4 linked regions of the Homo sapiens genome follow. The protein of the gene in region 4 purifies or fractionates together with the protein of the main gene of each other region. This does not show direct contact. Each region holds a gene or a part of one and is shown on either strand. Other genes may lie near its edges.

Region 1 (2,753 bases), on a different chromosome or scaffold from region 4:
GCTGTGTTGGTGCAACTCTAGGGCGTCTCCTGCCTGTGGCTTACTGCAGCTGTGGCCCTCCTGCTCTCTCCATGAGCTCTGAAGGGCTCCTGCTCTCTGCCAGCCCGCACAGCAGTGGAAGGCAGGCAGGGCTGAATAAAGGGTCTGAAAGTCACTGCGGTCACATGAGGTTTGTGGCCTGATCAGTCCACTGAAACTACAAATTGTTTACCTTCTCCTCATCCGTGGGGGAGACCTGCGCCACATAGGCGGTGGTGGCAACATTCTCCTGGGAGGGCTGAATCTCCTGGGGGGTGGCCTAGGCCAGGGGGCCAGCACGGCGGTGGCAGTGATCTCCTGGCCATCAATTTGTCCTGTTGAAAAAGACAGCAAGTCATAAAATATCTAACAAGCATCTACCCTAGACAATGCATGCCACAGTGAAAGACAGGCCTGGGGGGACAATGACAATGTAAGATAATCACAGAAACAGGGCCGGGCATGGTGGCTCACTCCTGTAATCCCAGCACTTTGGGAAGCTGAGGCAGGTGGATCACGAGGTCAGGAGATCGAGACCATCCTGGCTAACATGGTGAAAATGTCTCTACTAAAAAGACAATAAATCAGCTGTGCGAGGTGGCGGGCGCCTATAGTACCAGCTACTCGGGAGGCTGAGGCAGGAGAATGGCGTGAACCCGGGAGGCAGAGGCTGCAGTAAGCAGAGATCGTGCCACTACACTCCAGCCTGGGTAACAAGAGCGAAACTCCGTCTCAAAAAAAAAAAGATAATCACAGAAATAACATCATGACTAATGTTTCATGAGGAAAAGAGGCATAAAAACTAACAGGACACACCAATCTCCACGTGTCGAGGCAGCCTCCCAGGTCAAGAGTCATCCAAGTCAAGAGCTAAAGAATGTGCTGGAGGCCAGACGCGGAGGCTCACGCCTGTAATCCCAGTGCTCTGGGAAGCCAGGCAGGCGGATCACAATGTCAGGAGTTCGAGACCAGCCTGGCTAACATGGTGAAACCCCATCTCTACTAAAAATACAAAAATTAGCCGGGCGTGGTGGCGTGTGCCTGTAATCGCAGCTACTCGGGAGGCTGAGGCAAAACAATCTCTTGAACCCAGGAGGAGGAGGTTGCAGTGAGCTGACATCATGCCACGGCACTCTAGCCTGGGCAACAACTGAGACTCCGTCTCAAGAAAAAAAAAAGAAAAGTAAAGAATGTGCTGGAATCTGCTAGGTGGAAGAGAAGGGCTATGCTGGGCCCTGTGCTGGGAAGGACCCAAAGCACTGGTGAGAGAAGGTAGCATCGAGAGCGAGTGACAGGCAAACAGAAGGCCCCAGGGCCAGGGTGGGGCTTCCTCGCAGGACCATGCAGGCAGTATCCGCGTTTGCGCTTCCTTCTCCTCCAACCAAGGGAAGCTGGGTCTGGGGCTAAGAGAAGTGGGAGAAGTTCTCTTAGGAGGGCTCTGCAGCACTGAGAGGGGCCTGAATCAACATCAAATGATTTGGCAGGGAAACGGAAGGATTCAGGGGACAGCTGGGAAGTAAAATTGCCAGAGCTTGGTGATGGATGGGATGGGGGTGGTGAGGTGTGAACTTCCACTGACGGAGAGGTGGGGCTGCGGTGGGAAGCTGCATGAAGGAAATTTTAGGAGATGCCAAAGACTTTGTGTTTGGAAACAAGCAGTCTCAGAGAGGTGGCTCTGCATGTAGATGGCACTGAAACACACGCCATGTGCATGAAGCGAGGAGAGGCAGTGTGGGATGTGGGCTCCAGGGAGAGAGGAAAGGAAATAGAGGTGCAAACCCAGGAACCCCAGGGGAGCATGCACCCCGACCTCAAGAATTGTCTGGTAGCTGGGGATACTGGGAGCCCAAGCGCAGCCCCTTCTGTGCCCTAAGGGGTAAAGGGCTCTTTTGTTTTCTCAACTACCTTTAAGGCACATGGGGACTAACTCCGGCATGTGGCTATGTATTCAGAACATACTTAAGAGGTTTAACTTCAGTAAACTCAGCCTAAGTTAGCCCAAATTAGGGATTTCACAGCACTGACTCTATAATAATGAAGAAAAATCCATCTTCTGTGTAGCTGCCAGTAAAGGCCAACCCCTTCTCATCTCCTATGGAGACAGCATGGACTCACTCCATTCAAAGACAGAAGGGGAGACACACAAAAAAAATCCTACCAGAATCTTACGAAAAGTTGGAATGTCTGTAATCACGCCCACCCAGAAGGTACCCGGGTCCCCTGGGTTTTTAGCTCAGCAAGCACTCAGACTGTCAAACAGCAGATAATCAGCAGACTCCACAGCAAAGGTGTGACTTACAAGGCCAACAGCTGATGTGAGCGCACAGAGCTCCTAACCCATTTCAGGACTTAAGAAACTTGAAAGAAAAGTTAGCCAAATATCAAGGAAACTTTCCTAATGCCTGAAGGGCAATTACTGAAAAAAACCAGCTAAGCTACTTATACAGTTTGTAACAGGGCCTCGGAAGACGGAAAGTTCTGGGGCACGCACACTCCACTCCCCACCAGGCCTGGCAGCCCAGACAGCACTGTGGGCTGTGTTCTCAGTGCCAGCGGCCTCAGTCACAGCAGCAGGGAGTGGAGCAGAGATGACTCCACATGCCTCAAAATGCTGCACTGAGGACAAAATGCCACCCGAAACTATTCACAAGGGTCCATGTGCTTTTAAAACCATTCTGCCAGATACAAATAGCTATAAACGTCATGAGTGGTTATGAGATACAAGTGTTTAAGAA
Region 2 (3,500 bases), on a different chromosome or scaffold from region 4:
GGTTTCTACCTGCCCACCGCGGGGGCTCCGGGCTCCCTGCACTCTCACGCGCCCTCGGCCCGGACCCCTGGCGGCGGCCACTCCTCGGGCGCCCCGGCCAAAGGCTCGTCGTCGCGGGACGGTCCAGCCAAGGAGCGGGCGGGCCGCGGCGGGGAGCCGCCTCCGCTTTTCGGCAAGAAGGACCCGCGCGCCCGGGGCGAGGAGGCCTCGGGGCCACGGGGCGTGGTGGACCTGACCCAGGAGGCGCGCGCCGAGGGCCGCCAGGACCGGGGGCCCCCGCGCCTGGCTGAGCGCCTGTCGCCCTTCCTGGCTGAGTCCAAGACCAAGAATGCGGCGCTGCAGCCGTCGGTACTGACCATGTGCAACGGCGGCGCCGGGGACGTGGGGCTGCCCGCGCTGGTGGCCGAAGCGGGGCGCGGGGGTGCCAAGGAGGCTGCCCGGCAGGACGAGGGCGCGCGGCTGCTGCGGCGCACGGAGACCCTGCTCCCTGGGCCGCGCCCCTGCCCCTCACCGCTGCCCCCGCCGCCCGCGCCCCCCAAGGGGCCTCCTGCACCCCCCGCGGCCACCCCCGCCGGCGTCTACACCGTCTTCCGCGAGCAGGGCCGTGAGCACCGCGTGGTGGCGCCCACCTTCGTGCCTTCCGTGGAGGCCTTCGACGAGCGCCCGGGGCCCATCCAGATCGCATCCCAGGCGCGCGATGCCCGGGCCCGCGAGCGCGAGGCTGGCAGGCCAGGGGTCCTGCAGGCGCCCCCCGGCTCCCCGCGGCCTCTGGACCGGCCCGAGGGCCTGCGCGAGAAGAACTCGGTCATCCGCTCGCTCAAGCGGCCGCCCCCCGCGGATGCCCCCACGGTGCGGGCCACACGCGCCTCCCCGGACCCCCGCGCCTACGTGCCTGCCAAGGAGCTGCTCAAGCCCGAGGCGGACCCGAGGCCCTGCGAGCGTGCGCCCCGCGGCCCAGCCGGTCCTGCAGCCCAACAGGCCGCCAAGCTCTTCGGCCTGGAGCCCGGGCGCCCCCCGCCCACCGGCCCTGAGCATAAATGGAAACCCTTCGAGCTGGGCAACTTCGCCGCCACGCAGATGGCCGTGCTGGCCGCGCAGCACCACCACAGCCGCGCCGAAGAGGAGGCCGCCGTGGTCGCTGCCTCCTCCTCCAAGAAGGCCTACCTGGACCCTGGGGCTGTGCTGCCCCGCTCGGCGGCCACCTGCGGCCGGCCGGTCGCTGACATGCACTCTGCGGCCCACGGGTCTGGAGAGGCCTCGGCCATGCAGAGCCTTATAAAGTACAGTGGCAGCTTTGCCCGGGACGCCGTGGCCGTGCGCCCTGGTGGCTGTGGCAAGAAGAGCCCCTTTGGAGGTTTGGGCACCATGAAACCCGAGCCTGCGCCCACCTCTGCGGGTGCCTCCCGAGCCCAGGCCCGTCTCCCACACTCCGGAGGCCCTGCAGCGGGCGGCGGCCGGCAGCTGAAGCGGGACCCCGAGAGGCCCGAGAGCGCCAAAGCTTTCGGGCGCGAGGGCTCTGGTGCCCAGGGTGAGGCAGAAGTGCGACACCCGCCTGTGGGCATTGCAGTGGCTGTGGCCCGGCAGAAGGACAGTGGCGGCAGTGGCCGGCTGGGGCCTGGGCTGGTAGACCAGGAGCGCTCTCTGTCGCTGAGTAACGTCAAAGGTAGGTCCTGGGCAGAGCCCAGGTGCGGGTAGGATCTTGGGTCTCTCTGCCGTTTCCCGTACATTACAGTGTGGGCCCTTTCCCTTTGCTATTGCTAAGTCTTTATAAGTATCATTTTTTAAAATGGTCTTGAATGTTCTGTTGCGAGCATGTACCATGGTTCAGTTTTCCACTCCCTTGATGGGCATTTTCGTTTGTTCCTTCTCCGATGTTTTGTGTTCGGAACGTTGCTTTCAGTCTTTGTGTGCATCGCACCTTCGTGATACTTTCAGTCATTTCCTGAGAACAGATGGTCTTGGGAATAGACAAATATCAAACCTTCAATTTGAAGTCATCGAGGGACCTAACTGTGCCTTACCGATTCCAGTGTCCCCGGTACCTAGCCAGCCTGGGCTCTGGCACGTAGTAGGTGTTTGATGGATGAGTGAATGAGTGAGGAACAGACAGAAACTGGGGTTCCAACATCCTCACGGTCTTGATACTCAGTACTTGAGTGACTTTTTAGGTAGGTAGAGAGTTTACGTGCCTGTAAGTGGTTTATGAGTATCTGTTATATTTTGGATTCTTTAGAATTGTTTTATTTATTTATTTATTTTTGAAACGGAGTTTCACTCTTGTTGCCCAGGCTGGAGTCCAATGGCACGATCTCAGCTCACCGCAACCTCCGCCTCCCAAGTTCAAGTGATTCTCCTGGCTCAGCCTCCAGAGTAGCTGGGATTACAGACATGTGCCACCATGCTTGGCTAATTTTGTGTTTTTAGTAGAGACAGGGTTTCTCCAAGTTGGTCAGGCTGGTCTCGAACTCCTGACCTCAGGTGATCCGCCCATCTCAGCCTTCCAAAGTGCTGGGCATTACAGGCGTGAGTCACTGCCCCCAGCCTGTTTTATTTATTTTTAGTTTATAAATTATTATTTTGTTTTAGAGATAGAGTCTTGCTCTGTTACCCAGGGTGGAGTGCAGTGGTGTGATCATAGCTTACCGTAGCCTTGACCTCCTGGGCTCAAGCGATCCTCCAACCTTAGCCTCCCAAGTAGCTGGGACCGCAGGTATGCGCCACCACGCCCGACTAATTTTTTCTTTTTCTTTTTTTTTTTTTGGAGACAGAGTCTTGCATTGTTGCCCAGACTGGAGTACAGTGGTGCCATCTTGGCTCACTGCGACCTCTGCCTCCTGGGTTCAAGCGATTGTGCCTCAGTCTCCCCAGTAGCTGGCATTACAGGTATGCATCACCATGCCTGGCTAATTTTTGTATTTTTAGTAGAGATGGGGTTTTGCCATGTTGGCCAGGCTGGTCTCAAACTTCTGACCTCAGATGATCCGCCTGCCTTGGCCTCCGAAAGTACTGAATCTCCTACCTGTGTCACTTTTTTTTTGTTGTTTTTTGAGATGGAGTCTCGCTCTGTCACCCAGGCTGGAGTGCAGTGGCACAGTCTCTGCTCACTGCAACCTCTGCCTCCTGGGTTCAAGCGATTCTCCTGCCTCAGCCTCCCGAGTAGCTGGGACTACAGGTGCGTGCCATCACGCCTGGCTAACTTTTGTATCTTTTAGTAGAGACAGGGTTTCACCATATTGGCCAGGCTCGTCTCAAACTCCTGACCTCAAGTGATCCACCCGCCTCGGCCTCCCAAAGTGCTGGGATTACAGGCATGAGCCACCGCATCTGTTTTTTTTTTTTTTTTTTTTTTTTTGAGACAGACTTTTGCTCTGTTGCCCAGGCTGGAGTGCAATGGCATGATCTTGGCTCACTGCAACCTCCGCCTCCTGGGTTCAAGTGATTCTCATGCCTCAGTCTTCTGAGTAGCTGGGATTATAGGTGCACGCCACCATGCCCAGCTA
Region 3 (3,500 bases), on a different chromosome or scaffold from region 4:
ATGGAGTTTCACTCTTGTTGCCCAGGCTGGAGTGCAATGGCGCGGTCTCGGCTCACCGCACCTTCTGCCTCCTGGGTTCATGTGATTCTCCTGCTTCAGCTCCCAAGTAGCCGAGATTACAGGCATGTGCCACCATGCCCGGCTGATTTTGTATTTTTAGTAGAGACAGGGTTTCTCCATGTTGGTCAGGCTGCTCTTTAACTCCCGACCTCAGGTGATCTGCCCACCTCGGCCTCCAAAAGTGCTGGGATTACTACAGGTGTGAGCCACCGCACCCGGCTAATACCTTTTCTTTACTCCCAAGTTTGATCTTCAGATGACAGTGGCTCATGGTCTGTCCTTCTGTTTTTTTTTTTTCCTTTTTTTCTTTTTAAATTTTTGAAACAGAGTCTTACTCTGTGGCCCAGGCTGGAGGGCAGTGGCACGATTTCGGCTCACTGCAACCTCTGCCTCCCAGGTTGAAGCAATTCTCATGCCTCAGCCTCCTGAGTAGCTGGGATTACAGGTGTGTGTCACCACACCTGGCTAGTTTTTATTATTTTTGGTAGACATCGGGTTATGCCGTGTTGGCCAGGCTGGTCTTGAACTCCTGGCCTCAAGTGATCTGCCCACCTTGGCCTCCCGAAGTGCTGGGATTACAGACCTGAGCCACCACACCCGGCCCTTCTATTTTTTTTATAAGTGGCTAGTCAAAGTTTTTATACGGATGTTATAGTTAGGGCTGGTATACAGCTCTTTTTTTTTTTTTTTAGACAGAGCTTTGCTCTTGTCGCCCAGGCTGGAGTGCAGTGGCACAATCTTGGCTCACTGCAGCCTCCACCTCCCAGGTTCAAGCAATTCTCCTGCCTCAGCTTCCCAAGTAGCTGGGATTACAGGCATGTGCCACCACGCCCAGCTATTTTGTATTTTTAGTAGAGATGGAGTTTCACCATGTTGGTCAGGCTGGTCTCGAACTCCTGACCTCAGGTGATTCACCCACCTTGGCCTCCCAAAGTGCTTGAATTACAGGTGTGAGCCACCGTGTCCGGCCTACAGCTCATTTTTTAAGGGATTCAGTGATGAATTAGTTTGTAATTAACATTACTAATCTTTGTTTTTCTTCACTGTTGTACAGATTTTAATGTTTGTATTTTGTTTTCAGAAAATAGAAATTTGCATTTTATACTCGTTTTCAAGGTGATTTTTGACAAAGCTTTTCCTTTTTATTAGGAAGGTGAAAGTATACAGCACAACTTCCTACAAAGTAGTCCACAGTTTTGATTATGCAGCTTCAATTTTGAGTCTTGCCCTTGCAGTAAGTACCTTTACCTATTTTTAAGTCTGTCACTAACCCTGCCTGTTAAATGAAACTAAAATGGAACTTTGGGCTTTATTTTTAGATTTGAGTAACTTTTCTTGCCACATCAGATATTTGAGTTAAGACAATTGCTGGAATATGTAACTCGTCCTATTGACTCAGCATGAATTCAGATTTAGGTCCCACTCACTGTAGAACTTCAAACTAAATACAGTGCTCTAGGCATTGTTAACATTAAACGCAGGACCTGGGAAGCTGGTAAATCTCTCTTCAACTCATTTAACTCAAGAGTATTATAGTACACTAGAAAGGCAGATTAGCTCTCTGAGCAGAAAAAAAGATGTGGGGAGAAGGGGACAACAAAATGAAATATCTCCTTTTCTTTGTTACTGCTCTTTCTGAAATGTATACTGTCAAGTTTTATGAGAAGCCACATTTGGGCAGGAAGGCATTTGACTATATTATATAGAAATCTGATTTGGGAGAGGAAAAGCTTATTAAAAATATTTTTGGGGGGCAAGATCATAAAAGTCTTGCTACTGTGTAATCTTTGATGCCGTTAACTATGTATTATACAAACTTTGCCAGTGATATTTTACAAGTATAAGTTCTGTCAATGTAGTTGTATCCTAAGGAAAAAATGATTTCGCTTTAACGTCTTGCACCAATCATCGTTAGGCAGACTATGTGTATTTGAATGGAACTGTTGGTGAATGTATGGACAAGCAGCAAACACATGGTAAATGTGTTTTGAAGTAAAAGTACTATAAATTACGAGTTAAGAATAGACTAACTTATTTTTCTAATTGTTATTAGCATGAAGATGAGACAATAGTTGTAGGAATGACCAATGGAATACTGAGTGTTAAACATCGGAAATCTGAAGCAAAGAAGGAATCACTTCCCAGAAGAAGAAGGCCTGCATATCGAACCTTTATTAAAGGAAAAAATTACATGAAGCAACGGGTATTTGTGCATTTCTCATATTTGTTTAAAGGGTGAAATTTGTTAGAGTAGCCAGCTTCATCCCTGCACATTACTGGAAAGCGTAGTTCACATGGCACTTTATTTTGCTTTTCTCTACATCAGAATTATTTCTAGATTGCTAGATTGGGGACATTATTGATGAGTAATGGGGAACAAGGACTACTTTATGTAATACTCTGCATCATAACATAATGTTATAATGCTTTACTGCATTCAAAATAATGTCTTTCACATACTACCTGATTTGATCTAAATCCCAAGAAGTAGTAGAACCAATCATGTCCCTGTTTGGCACCTGAGAAGACTGAGCGACAAATAATTTGTGATTGATTCAGGATTTCATTACTGGTATCCAGAGTTGTTGAGACTAGATCTCATTATCTCTGATTGTTGTTTGATTTCTCTTTCTACTGTACCACACTGCCTGCCACATAAAGAGAATTGAAATGAGTAATTTTTACCTAGAATTAAGGCAATGGTGCATGTTGTAAGTTAAAATTATAAGAGAGTAAGAACATGTTGATGTAGCAAGTTACTCCTTTTTTTTTTTCTTTTTTTGACTCTGATTAGCAGGATGCATTTTTATTTAATCTACATTATGGGCATATGAACATTATTTGTGACATAGTTCAGAGATACCACTTCATTATGAAAAAGTTTATATTAAATGTATATTTACACAGATGCTGATTTTCCTTCTCTATAAATGTACTTTTCATTGCAGGATGACATTTTGATTAACAGGCCAGCAAAGAAGCACCTAGAATTGTATGACAGGGATCTGAAACATTTTCGGATCTCTAAGGCACTCGATAGAGTTCTTGATGTGAGTGAGCATTTTTTAAAAAATCATGTTATTACTTACCCTGCATATTACCATGACTTGGAACTGTGAAGATAAATATTATTCAAACTTGATAATTTAGTGCAAGACAGTGATTTTTTTTGTGCTGTTTTGTCTACTCATGTTGACTTTGAAAATTTTTCTAGCCCACTTGTACAATAAAGACACCCGAGATTACGGTGTCCATCATAAAGGAGTTAAATCGAAGAGGAGTCCTTGCAAATGCGCTTGCAGGTCGGGATGAGAAGGAAATCAGTCATGTTCTTAATTTTTTGATAAGGTATGTTTTTTGTCTGTGAAACACTTACATTTTGCATCTGAAATCCTTTATCACCAAATAAAAGACATTTAGTTTGATCTTTGTAGAGAACT
Region 4 (5,052 bases):
GCAAAACCTTTGGCACTGAAGGATTCAAATGGGGAACCTGGTGATATTATAATAGTGGTGGAGGCCAGGTGCGGTGGGTCATGCCTGTAATCCCAGCACTTTGGGAGGCCAAGGCAGTCAGATCACGAGGTCAGGAGTTCGAGACCAGCCTGACCAACATAGTGAAACCCCCATCTGTACTAAAAATACAAAAATTAGCCAGGCATGGTGGCACACACCTGTAGTCTCAGCTACTTGGGAGGCTGAGGCAGGAGAATCACTTGAACCCGGAAGACAGAGGTTGTGGTGAGCCGAGATTGCACTACTGCATTCCAACCTGGGCAACACAGCAAGACTCCGTCTCAAAAAAAAAAAAAAGAGTGGTGGAAGCAGCTCTTTATAGGTAGAGCCCTGCTTACTAGAATAAAAGCTGAAACCTTCTTTCCCCATCTAGAGATTTCCTTCTGGAGTAAGAACATTACAGGAAAACCTCTAGATCCAGATGAACAACCCTAACATCCCCCAGCTCAAGTATAGACAGAAGGCCCCTCCCCCAAAACTCCCCCAAATGGTCAAAAAACCCCCTATTTAAAAATTTCCTTTAACGTACCTGAGATAGGCTAGCATATTCAGATTTGTTTCTTGTTGTTTTTACTTAAAACAGAGTAGGTTTACTGAGTGCAGGCATCTAACTTGACAGCTCATATTGTAAGAGGCAGGACCCTGGAAGGCAAAAGAGCGGATTACCCCGAAGCAGACCTGCATCCAGACCCCAGCTCTGCCATCAACAGGGACATGCAGCTTACCTCTGTGAGCCCAATTTGCCTCGCAAAAATGGGAGTTTTGTTTTTTGTTTTGTTTTGTTTTTTTGAGATGGAGTTTCCCTGTTGTTGCCCAGGCTAGAGTGCAATGGCGCGATTTCAGCCCACCTCAACCTCTGCCTCCTGGGTTCAAGAGATTCTCCTGCCTCAGCCTCCCAAGTAGCTGGGATTACAGGCATGCACCATCACGCCCGGCTAATTTTGTATTTTTGGTAGAGACGGTTTCTCCGTGTTGGTCAGGCTGGTCTCAAACTCCCGACCTCAGGTGACCTGCCAGCCTAGCCTCCCAAAGTGCTGGGATTACAGGCGTGAGCCACCGCGCTCAGCCAAAATGCCCCTGATAGTGTGGTAGGGATTTCCTTTATTGTTTGTTTGCTTGTTTGTTTTGAGACAGGGTCTCATTCTGTCTCCCAGCCTGGAGTGCAGTGGTGCAATCATGGCTCACTGCAGCCTCTACCTCGTGGGCTCAAGCAGTCCTCCCACCTCAGCCTCCCTAGTAGCTGGGACTACAAGCACACACCACCATGCCCAGCTAATTGTTTGTATTTTTGGTAGAGACTGTTTTGCTATGTTATCCAGGCTGTTCTGCATCTCCTGAGTTCAAACAGTCTGCCCACCTCGGCTTCCCAAAGTGCCGGGACTAGAGGCGTGAGCCACCACACCCAACTCCATTGTATTGAATTTTAAGAAGCTGGTGAGACTGATATTATCCCATTTACAGATGAGGAAAGCAGGGCCCAAAAGGTTCGGGAACTTGTCTGAAATCTCACAGCTCTCAGGTCATTGTCTTCCAAAGGGGGACCCAAGCTCAGTGCCTTCACTCCCAGACCCTGGTGTCCTCTCTGGCCTTATTTACTCCTGGTCCTCTGCCAGCCCTGCCACCAGATGGCCTTCTAACTCCTTGGTTGAAAGGCCCATCTCATTCAGCTTCCAGCTTCCTTTTTCTTTTCCTTTTGAGACGGAGTCTTGCTTTGTCGCCCAGGCTGGAGTGCAGTGGCATGATCTCGGCTCACTATAACTTCTGCTTCCTGGGTTCAAGCGATTCTCCTGCTTCAGCCTCCCAAGTAGCTGAGATTACAGGCACACACCACCATGCCCAGCTAATTTTTTTATTTTTATTTATTAATTTTTAAATTTTTATTTGTTTATTTATTTTTGAGACGGAGTCTCCCTCTGTTCCCCAGGCTGGAGTGCAGTGGCAGTATCTTGACTCACTGCCACCTCCGCCTCCTGGGTTCAAGTGATTCTCCTTCCTCAGCCTCCTGAGTAGCCGGGACTACAGGAGCCTGCCACCATGCCCGACTAACTTTTGTATTTTTAATAGAGATGGGGTTTCACCATGTTGGCCAGACTGCTCTCGAACTCCTGACCTTAGATGATCCACCTGCCTCGGCCTCCCAAAGTGCTGGGATTACAGGCATGAGCCACCATGCCCGACCTAATTTTTGTGTTTTTAGTAGAGATGGGGTTTCAACATGTTGGCCAGGCTGGTCTCAAACTCCTGACCTCAAGTGATCCACCCACCTCAGCCTCCCAAAATGTTGGGATTATAGGCATGAGCCACCGTGCCCATCCCACAGAATGTCTTTTGGTTTTGTTTTTGTTTTCTGTTTTGTTTTGTTTTGTTTTGTTTGAAAAGGAGTCTCATTCTGTCGCCCAGGCTGGAGTGCAGTGGCACAATCTCGGCTCACTGCAACCTCCACCTCCCAGGTTCAAGAGATTCTCCTGCCTCAGCCTCCCAAGTAGCTGGGACTATAGGCGTAGGGACTGTAGGCGTATGCCACCACGCCTGGCTAATTTTTTGTATTTTTAGTAGACACGGGGTTTCACCATGTTAGCCAGGATGGTCTCGATCTCTTGACCTTGTGATCTGCTCACCTCAGCCTCCCAAAGTGTTGGGATTACAGGCGTGAGCCACAGCGCCTGGCCAAAATGTTTTTATGTTTATTTTTCTTAGTATGAAACTCCAGCGTATTAAAGAGCATTGAGAACGGTTGATCTGGTAAATCGCTATAAAGGCGGCATTTCTTTTTTTTTTTTTTTTTTTTTTTTTTTGGCGAAGTGGGGGATGGAGTCTCATTCTGTCGCCCAAGCTGGAGTGCAGTAGTGTGATCTCGGCTCACTGCAAGCTCCGCTTCCCAGGTTCAAGCCATTCTCCTGCCTCAGCCTCCCAAGTAGCTGGGATTACAGGCGCCCGCCACCACGCCCAGCTAATTTTTTGTATTTTTAGTAGAGACAGGGTTTCACTGTGTTGGCCAGGCTGGTCTCGAACTCCTGACCTCATGATCCGCCCGCCTCGGCCTCCCAAAATGCTGGGATTAGAGGCGTGAGCCACCGCGCCAGGCCTAAAGGGGGCATTTCTAATACTGGAGAAAGGTGAACTTTTTTTTTTTTTTTTTTCCGAGACAGAGTCTCGCTGTGTCACCCAGGCTGGAGTGCAATGGCGCAATCTCAGCTTGCTACAACCTCCGCCTCCCGGGTTCAAGCAATTCTCCTGCCTCAGCCTCCTGAGTAGCTGGGCACCTGCCATCATGCCCAGCTAATTTTTGTATTTTTGTAGAGATGGGGGTTTCACCGTGTTGGCCAGGCTGGTCTTAAACTCCTGTCCTGACCTGAGGTGATCCACCCACCTCAGCTTCCCAAAGTGCTGGGATTACAGGCATGAGCCACTGTGCCTGACCAGGTGAACTATTTTATAAATAATATTGGAACATTTGGCTCATCTAGGGAAAAACAAGAGTCCCACCTCACACCTAATCAAAAAGTAAATTCCAGCAGATTAAATACCTGAATATGACAGGAAGGTACACACCAAATTCATGGGACAGATGGCCTGGGGAGGAATGAAACTTGGAAGGCGGTATCACGGTAAACTACCTTTATCTGTGATGATTTTATTTCCTTAAAATAAATTATACTACAAACATGACAGTACATTAACAAACCCTGTGGTAGGAATGGGGTTGTGTATTGTATTATACTTTGTATTTTTGAGAGTTTTTTAATTTCTTTTTTGTTGTTGTTGAGACAGAGTCTCACTCTGTCACCCAGGCTGGAGTCCAGTCGCGCAATCTTGGCTCACTGCAACCTCTGCCTCCCGGGTTCAAGCAGTTCTCTGCCTCAGCCTCCCAAGTAGCTGGGATTACAGGCATCCGCCACCACGTCAGGCTAATTTTTGTATTTTTAGTGGAGACGGGGTTTCACCATCTTGGCCAGACTGGTCTTGAACTCCTGACCTCATGATCCACCCACCTTGGGCTCCCAGAGTGCTGGGATTACAGGCATGAGCCACCGCGCCTGGCCGAGTTTTTTAATTTCTAAAAATAAAAATGAGTATACATCTAAAGTAGTAGAAGAAAATGCAGAGAATGTTTTATAATCTTAAAATAGAGCCTTCCTAAGAGTGAAGTGAAATAAAAAGTCAGAAAATAATATATTGATATAGATTTAACTACATGAAAATTTTAGGCCGGGTGCGATAGCTCACACCTGTAATCCCACACTTTGGGATGCCAAGGTAGGCAGATCACTTGAGCCAGGAGTTCAAGACCAGCCTGAACAACACAGTGAGACCTGGTCTGTACAAAAAATACAAAATTAGCCAGGCGTGGTGGTACGTGGCTGTCGTCCTGTAGTCCCAGTTACTCAGGAGGCTGAGGTGGGAGGATCGCTTGAGCCCAGGTGGGGCAGAGTTTGCAGTGAGCAAGATCATGCCACCGCACTGCAGCCTGGGCAACAGGGTGAGACCTTGTCTCAAAAAGAAAAAAAAAGCTTTTTTAAAGATAGATAGAAGAAAATGTTTGCAATATGTATAACACATACAGTATATAGAACCCTCATATCAATATATATAATTTCCAAAGAAAAAGTGGATAAAGAATATGAGCAATTCATTCACAAAAAATACAAATAGCCAAAAGACATGAAAAAGAAAAAAACATTGTTAATAAAATAATTTTTTAATCTATCCAACTGGCAAAATTAAAAGGGTTGATGATATTCAATTTTGGTAAAGGAAGACATAGGCACACTTGTATATTGGCACAAACTTATTGAGAGCAGTTTGACCAAATTGCGCATGTCCTTTGACTCAGAAATTCCACTTATGAAAATCTACCCCCACAGAAAGACTGTAAGATACTCATGAGGCTGAACATTTTTTGAAACAAAGTCTATCGATATTGGGGTAAGGAGATTTGTTTTGTACACACAGTGGAACACTAATTATAAAGTCGTCAAAAAGTATGAGGTA

The links. Proteins that work in one complex are often made in the same cells at the same time.
Region 1: the proteins of NFKBIL1 (region 4) and RNPS1 purify together in Homo sapiens (co-immunoprecipitation; 3 studies listed by BioGRID and IntAct, with this or other methods). This does not show direct contact.
Region 2: the proteins of NFKBIL1 (region 4) and TNRC18 purify together in Homo sapiens (affinity purification with mass spectrometry; one large-scale study listed by BioGRID and IntAct). This does not show direct contact.
Region 3: the proteins of NFKBIL1 (region 4) and UTP15 purify together in Homo sapiens (affinity purification with mass spectrometry; one large-scale study listed by BioGRID and IntAct). This does not show direct contact.

Annotation. Positions count from the first base shown.
Region 1 is NC_000016.10:2,255,374-2,258,126, forward strand, and holds part of RNPS1 (RNA-binding protein with serine-rich domain 1), read right to left. Parts: intron 354-2,753; coding exon 212-353; intron 1-211. UniProt on the Homo sapiens protein: Part of pre- and post-splicing multiprotein mRNP complexes. Auxiliary component of the splicing-dependent multiprotein exon junction complex (EJC) deposited at splice junction on mRNAs.
Region 2 is NC_000007.14:5,385,835-5,389,334, reverse strand, and holds part of TNRC18 (trinucleotide repeat-containing gene 18 protein), read left to right. Parts: coding exon 1-1,663; intron 1,664-3,500.
Region 3 is NC_000005.10:73,575,743-73,579,242, forward strand, and holds part of UTP15 (U3 small nucleolar RNA-associated protein 15 homolog), read left to right. Parts: intron 1-1,209; coding exon 1,210-1,294; intron 1,295-2,113; coding exon 2,114-2,263; intron 2,264-3,008; coding exon 3,009-3,110; intron 3,111-3,274; coding exon 3,275-3,408; intron 3,409-3,500. UniProt on the Homo sapiens protein: Ribosome biogenesis factor. Involved in nucleolar processing of pre-18S ribosomal RNA. Required for optimal pre-ribosomal RNA transcription by RNA polymerase I.
Region 4 is NC_000006.12:31,549,858-31,554,909, forward strand, and holds part of NFKBIL1 (NF-kappa-B inhibitor-like protein 1), read left to right. Parts: intron 1-5,052. UniProt on the Homo sapiens protein: Involved in the regulation of innate immune response. Acts as negative regulator of Toll-like receptor and interferon-regulatory factor (IRF) signaling pathways.